Linked DNA regions of Homo sapiens. The protein of the gene in region 1 purifies or fractionates together with the protein of each later gene. This does not show direct contact. Each region holds a gene or a part of one and is shown on either strand. Other genes may lie near its edges.

Region 1 (3,748 bases):
TATTACAGCTTCCAGAGCCACACACTGTGGTATAGACTACTGAATGATACACTAAACTAACATGAATTTGCCAATGAAATGTTTCCGCATTTGGCAACAGAGATAATAAAATAAGACAGCATTCTATCTCTTGCAAGAAAAAGCTTGAGATCAATTTGCCGCCACAGATCATTTAGTGGACAACAAGGACCCAAGAAGATGGAGGGGAGAGATAGAAGCTGCGGGCAGGTGCAAGGAGAGCCTCTCTGAGGGGTGATCCGCCCAGAGCCACACCGGATTGAACAGCCCTTGGGGCAGGGACTCCAGAGGGCAAAGGCTGCCGGGTGAGAGGCAGGAGGAACAGCGCTAGGAAGGTTTGAGGAGGTGCTGCCCCCAGGAGGGAAGTGGGGTGGCTCCCCATGGCTTCTCCCGGGGCTGGCACTGAAGCTGGAGCACAGGATGTGCTGACGGGGGTCCAGAGGCAGAGTCCTTAACTTACTCAGCTTAAGCGTGGCATGAGTCCCAACTGGGAGGGGCCCTGGCAGCATGAAACCCCCACCCCCACTCTCTGCGACGGCCCAGATGGAGGGCAGGAGGAACAGCGGTTCAGCCCTGGCTGGGGCTGCAGGGGCTGGGGTGTGTTACTCACTGGCACGATGGAGAACTGCATGAAGAGGCAGGTAAGTTCTGTGGCGGCCAGCACGTAGGTAAGCAAGATGACCGAGGACCGGCCTAGAGCGCTCATCCTGCCGGGGGACCGGCCCTGGTCCCTGGGAGCCCGAGCTCCCTGCATCCTGGACAGGCGCAGCAGGGAGACCCAGGAGAGATCCAAGCAGGAGGCTGGCGGAGCAGGGGGCAAAAGTCCAGTTGATCCGGGCAGGGGTGCTGAGTCACTGGGTCCCAGGCAGCACCCGCCTGGCCTTGCCTGCAAGAGAGGACAGCACTGCAGGACCCCCTCCCCAGTGGAGCTCTCCTGCTACCTGGACCTTAGAGGACACATCAGGGGGTCCCCCTCCTCCACTTTTGACAGCTCTGGTCTCCAGGCACACAGCCTCCCGGGGAGGGGAGACAGGGACAAGCTGCTCCCCCCGACCCCTGCAGGTGGGCCAGGCTCAGTGCCTGGTTGCCTGACACAGGAATGTGCCATGCCCCACTTTTAGAGGGAGGCAGAGGCTCGGAGTGGTGGCTGAGTCCACCTCAAATCATCAGCGCCTTCTGTGGCCAGAGGGCTGATGTGGGTCCCTGTGCCTGGAGGCCCTCCGTAGGCCCACAGTGGCCCTGTCCCCAACACAGTGCAGCTCTCAGGGAAGGTCTACCTTCCCCTGTGGCCAGCAGCCAGAGCTCCAAGGGGCTTCTGGAATGGTCTTGCGTAGGGGAGACATAGCTCAGCCTTCCAGGCTCCCCAGTAGCTCTGCCTTACCTCCCACAGCGGAGTGCTGTCTGTCCCCACCCTTCCCCGCCCGGCCTCCAACTGGTGGGAACTGGATTTTGCGGCTGCAGAGGACTTCCCCAAATTTTGCCACATTAACAGCTGACTGCACATCTGAGCCCCGAGGTACCGAACCCAGGCTGGTGGGGTAGGGCGGGGAGACCCCTGAGGGTCCGGGAGCTGCGCCTGGCGCCCTCCCCCATCCCGGGATGCAGGGAGGCTGGGGGGAGCAGGGCAGCCGCAGCAGGCACGTCAGGGGCACCTCATTGGGCAGAGGTGCGACGCTGCGCCGGAGTTCGGGGTTCGGGGCTCAGAGGCCGCCCTCTCCGGAGTGTGCTCGAGTACCTGCCTTTGCAGGGGCGGGCTTGGGCACGGGTGCCGGTGGGGTGAGCGCTCCAGGGTGACCTAGACACCGGTCCTTCCGGGATGAGCCCCGGCCCCGCCCTTTCGGGAGATGACTTGCAACAGGGACCGCCCCTCTGGGTCTGAGTTCCAGCCCTCGCGCTTTGCAATCGCCAGTTCCGGGAGCGCCCGTGCCACGGTTTCTGCGCTCTCACTGGCCGAGCCCGCCCCTCCCCTCGAAGGACCCGCCCCTGCCCCGCCCACCAGCGGGCTCGCCCCGTGCCCGGCTTCGCCCGCCCCAGCCCCCTCCAGCTTGAATCCTGCCCGGTGCCCGGGCTGCTGGAGGTGGACACTCTGACCCTCAGGCAGCACCGGTGTCCACTTTGGGCCTGAGGAGGGGCAGTGTGGGCAGGGGATGGGACCGGGAGGTGGAGGGAAGGAGAGAATGGAGGGGAGGCAGGGGCGGGGAGAGAAAAGCGGAGGAATGGTGGTGAGGGGTTAGGGGAAGAAGTCAGGGGAGGTTGTAGAGGGTGTGGTGTAGCCTGGCCCTGCCAAAGGTCTGCACAGAGCCCCAGAAGAGTGACCAGGAGACAGCTCTGGGCCCCTCCTCACTTCCCTCCCCAGACCCGGAGGCTGCTAGGAGCAGTTGAGAGCCCACTTTTCCCCATTTCACCCTGCCTGCCACTTCCCCACCCTTGCAGGGGCCACCAGAGATGCCAGCACACAGGTAAACAAGCCTCATGCCGCCCTCCGCAGCAGGAGCCGCTGGAGCACACACACCCCACGCTGCGCACACTTGGCCCAAGCCCTGCCCTTGGCCTGGGCACCATTCTCCGTGCCCCTGACTGTCACTAAGTAGGGAGATGCTCATTCAGGACTCCTGCCCCACCTCCTCCCCAGGCAAGGGCTGGGCACAGGCTCAAATGTCAAAACCAGTGTCCCCCTGCCATGTGTCAATCATCGCTCCACAGAGCAGAAAACTGCAGGGGTGAGACAGGGTGGGACGGACATCGCAGAGGCGAGCGAGAGCCGGCCAAAGTCCTGGTGGGCAGGGGGGCCAGAGCCAGGTGGCCCAAGGCCGGCTGGCTAAGCCATTCCAAGTCACCGTGGGAGTGGTTCAGCAGCTACCCTTCGTTCAGCAGCTCAGATATGTTGGGCATCAGAAAACAATACCCCAAAATGAAGGCCTCAGAAGCAGCTTCGGAAGAAAAAGTGTTTCTCTGACCTTCTCTTGCTCTCCTGTCTCTCAGTGCCATTTTCCCCGAAGCTGGCCTTAGAAACTGGAATCCATTTTCCCCAGGGCAGGTCATAGAAATCAGAACCCCGCCTTTCCACACAGCCAGACATCAAACCTAAAAATATTGCTCTAACTTTCCCTCCACCTTTGTGTTTAGAAGCTGGCCATAAATTATCTGACCTCTCTTGTTTGACTGTAGGGCATAAGACCCCATTCCAGGAGGGTCCTGCTCCATGCCCAGAAGGAAGGAATGCTGCTCAGAAAGTTCAAGAAATCTAGACCAACAGCCCTCGCTGCGCTTCCCCTTGCGGTCCAGGAGCATTAGTGCAGGTCCCTTGGTTCATCTGTGTTCCCGCATGGATGTCCATACTTTGTTGAGCCTAAGCATCAGAAATGGCAATTTCCCCCATATCTTTTTTTTTTTTTTTTTTTTTTTTTGAGACGGAGTCTTGCTCTGTCACCCAGGCTGAAGTGCAGTGGCGCGATCTCGGCTCGCTGCAAGCTCCGCCTCCCGGGTTCACGCCATTCTCCTGCCTCAGCCTCCCGAGTAGCTGGGACTACAGGCGCCCGCCACAGCCCCCGCTAATTTTTTTGTATTTTTAGTAGAGACGGAGTTTCACCGTGTTAGCCAGGATGGTCTCGATCTCCTGACCTCGTGATCCGCCCCCCCTCGGCCTCCCAAAGTGCTGGGATTACAGGCGTGAGCCACCGCGCCCAGCCTGTTTCCCCCATATCTTTGGGTCTTTGTTCTGAAAACTCCC
Region 2 (3,748 bases), on another chromosome or scaffold:
GTTGTACTCCTTTATGTCTTATTTTACATAAACAAACTTTATGTAAGTTTATCAGTGCAAAACAGAATTAGAAAAGATGGCAACATAAACCTTCAATTATTATTTAAGAATGGTATGACCTCAACCAAAATCAGATTTAAAAAGAAATATCAGAATTTTTTTTTTTTTTATTAGGGAATCCTAAAAAAAAAAAATTACCATTTGGAATACCTGCTGCACATTAACTTTGAGGGTCGTCTTGGGAAAAAAAATGAGTAATTATTCTTGTCTGGCTTTGTGAAATTTTTCAGAGTAATATCACTAGGAGGAAACTGGATATAATTTGGTACTTTCTCATATGGCAATGACATGAAGTAATAAATGGCAAGTGGGAAAGGGGAAGGAAGAAGAAAAAAGTATAGAATAAATCATAACAGGTAAAAAAAAAGTTTTTTTTGTAAAGAAGGGATAAGGAATTTGAAACTGTAAGAATAGAGTATCAAATTATATATATATATAACAATTTTCTATCTTAAAAATAAAACTGGAATGTTATTTCACTTAAAATGTACAGCATGCAAAATACTCTGTAATAGTAAAAAAAAAAAAAAGAAAAATACACCAACGTAAAGTCTCACAATTTTCCAGTAAATGAGATTTCTGGGTCAAAAATCACCATTACAAACCCTTTAACCAAGGATTTATTTTTTGTTTCCAGCATTACAATTTGCAATAATTCATAGATTTCCATTCCAGTAAGTTTTAAGACACAGATCTCACACAGGCAGTTGGGTCCACATGTTAAGAACTCATTAATTCAGCAAAGAGATCACCCAGCCGCCATTCTCATATGAACAATGCTCACTGCTACCTGAACATTTTAAAGTATGTTATGAGTTGTTTTGATGATGACAGCTGCAGCTTTTCACCACATTTTCAATTACTGAATTGCATGTTTTTTTTCCACCTTGATAACTTAGGGTCAGTAGAAAGCTATTTACTTACATGTTATAGTCAATATAACTATACTAAATGCCCATTTGTAACTGAAGAAACTCACAGACACAGTATGAACTATATTATACAAAATCATGACCATGAGTTTCAGTGAGAGATTCTGTCTCTCTCTTAAAGCAAGAAATATCCCACAGCTCAGATTTACATAAGTAGTGCCGCCTTTTAAATAAAAGTCAAATGCTGTCCTGCCTGTAAAATTATAAATATTTCTAACCCACTTTACAGAATTTTAAAATGCTTATAAATGCATTATCTTCCAGTAAATAAACATTATGGTACTGAACCTCATTTAAAAAAAAGTCATCACACTGGCCCATGGAAATATCTAGGACTATATCTCCTAACATTAGAAAAATTAAACCAAATAAGGGGAAAAAAGCAAAGAAGAAAAAAGAAATTTTACAAAATGGCAACTACTATGACCTAAAAGAGTGTACTGAGATGTCTTCATTCAATTCAGTAACTAAACATTTCTGGAATGAACATTTGTAGATAACTAGGTAAGGAGAGTGATTCTCTTAGCACTCAGGTCAAAATCACAAGGTATGGAGAAATAATTTCCACATTCTATAAGGAAAGACAGACTTTGAAACGGAGTGACTGTTTAAAAACCACATACCAAGATTTAGCCAGAATATTGAAGATTGGCAGATCTTGATGGAGTGAAATCTTCAGAGGCAACAAATTAAAAATCATGATCCTATGGATGCCACTTATTTTTACCAATGTGAAAAAAGGAAAGATGATTGCAAAGTACAGTATACACTGAACAGGTGAAATATGGGACATTATGAACAATTTAAATAACCAAAATGTTCCCTATGGAAGCATAAAAACATGATTTTCAAATTGATTCAACTTGTAGTGTGTCTGTTAGATGTAAGTAGTAGTTTTAGTTCTGTGTCCTGCTGAGTTGCTCTTTACATAAAATATTTCCTTCATCTTAAAAAAAAGGCTTCTGCATGGCACTGAGTCTTTCAGTGTAGGAGAGGAGGAAACTTTGTAGAGTGGACGGACAAACTTGTTTCCAAGGTCCCCACCCAGGTGATTCATTCCATCAAACTCACAGTATCTCCAAATCTACATGTCGAACTTCAGGATTTCGTTTCTGGAAAGAAAAATCACCACCACATTATTTGTAGCAAAATAAAATCTTGTTTCTTTTTATTCCTTTTGGTCATTAGAGCCAATGAAAACATTTGCAAACTATTTCACTATAGCATACTAATGAGAGAAATAGTTGCATAAGAAAAAAAGTAAGATCAATAGGTAAATAGACATACTATAAACAGTACAATAAGTAGTATCACATTCCTAAGTTTGTTCATGTGTTTGTTAATACAAAAGTGCATTAAGGATCTAGTACATGCCAAGCATTGCGAAGCACTGGAAATACACATTTTTGTGTGGTGAAAACAAAATCACTGCAAAACAATAATAATCAAAAAGAGTAAATTGACAACCACTCATTTTATATACTTTAGCAACAATCCATATATTCTTGGGCCGGGCCCTGTGCTAGAAAACAGAGCTATGATTATTAAATAAGACTCTGTTCCTGACCCTGAGTGACTCAGTTTAGCTAGGGAGACCAGCATAGCAGTAATCATCTACAAGTTAAAGTATTAGAGCTAATAATAAAAAGTTAACATTTATTGCTTACTCACTCATGTATCAAGTACTGTGTTACATGAGCACATGTATGTGTGTTTTAAAAGCCTCATAACCTAATTACTATTTCCATCTTATACATACATCAGGGAAAACTGAAGTACGAAGAAATTAACTAACCTGTCTGAAGTCACACTGCTAGTAAGTGATGGAGCCAGGATTGATTCCAGGCCTGACTCCAGGCCTGATTCCAGATCCCAAGCTCCTATTACACTGTACTAAATAATAACACTGGGAGCAAAAATGAGACAGCCATTTTGCTCATGAGATCTAGAAAATTTCACTGAGGATATAATATCTAAGGTAGGTCTGCATATGATGAGCCTTCCAGGTAGATAATGAAGAGTGTCTAGACAGAAAACACAACATCAGCAAAGTCAGACAGCCTGCAAAGTGTGCACTGGCACTATGGTATAGCTAGCACAGAAGCTGCAAAAAGGGTAGGGTTGGTAATGAGGCTGGAAAGACAGGCAGAAATCAGGTTGTTAAAAATCTTATATGCTAGCTTAAGGAACTTCAATTCAATAACAACCAATACTGTCTACTATTACATGCCTACTCTGTGCCAGGCATTGAAGTGTATATGACAATGAGCTGGGAACAAACAGTATTTGCCTTCAGTGGACTTACGTTTGGTAGTGAGGTGATATAGGTAAATTAAGTAGGCAATTACAACACTCGGCTACCACAGAGCAAAGTAAAGATTTTGGGTTTCTTTTTCCTGTGAGTGCACAAAGGAAGGGCACCTGGCCGGGCGCGGTGGCTCACGCCTGTAATCCCAGCACTCTGGGAGGCCGAGGCGGGCGGATCACAAGGTCAAGAGATCAAGACCATCCTGGCCAACATGATGAAACCCCATCTCTATTAAAAAGTACAAAAATTAGCTGGGCATAGTGGCGCATGCCTGTAATCCTAGCTACTCGGGAGGCTGAGGCAGGAGAATCGCTTGAACCCGGGAGGCAGAGGTTGCAGTGAGCCGGGATTGTGCCACTGCACTCCAGCCTGGCGACAGAGCGGGACTCCATCTCAAAAAAATAAAAAAATAAAAAATAAAATAAAATAAAGGAAGGGCACCTAAATC

The links.
Region 2: the proteins of SLC67A1 (region 1) and SLC30A9 purify together in Homo sapiens (affinity purification with mass spectrometry; 2 studies listed by BioGRID and IntAct, with this or other methods). This does not show direct contact.

What each region holds. Positions count from the first base shown.
Region 1 is NC_000011.10:2,900,370-2,904,117, reverse strand, and holds the start of SLC67A1 (solute carrier family 67 member A1), read right to left. Parts: upstream 1,841-3,748; 5' UTR 1,754-1,840; exon of another isoform or gene 1,523-1,753; coding exon of another isoform or gene 1,400-1,522; intron 905-1,399; coding exon of another isoform or gene 773-904; coding exon 629-772; exon of another isoform or gene 543-628; intron 1-542. UniProt on the Homo sapiens protein: May act as a transporter of organic cations based on a proton efflux antiport mechanism. May play a role in the transport of chloroquine and quinidine-related compounds in kidney. Plays a role in the regulation of lipid metabolism.
Region 2 is NC_000004.12:42,084,438-42,088,185, reverse strand, and holds part of SLC30A9 (proton-coupled zinc antiporter SLC30A9, mitochondrial), read right to left. Parts: intron 2,105-3,748; coding exon 2,060-2,104; 3' UTR 1-2,059. UniProt on the Homo sapiens protein: Mitochondrial proton-coupled zinc ion antiporter mediating the export of zinc from the mitochondria and involved in zinc homeostasis, zinc mobilization as well as mitochondrial morphology and health.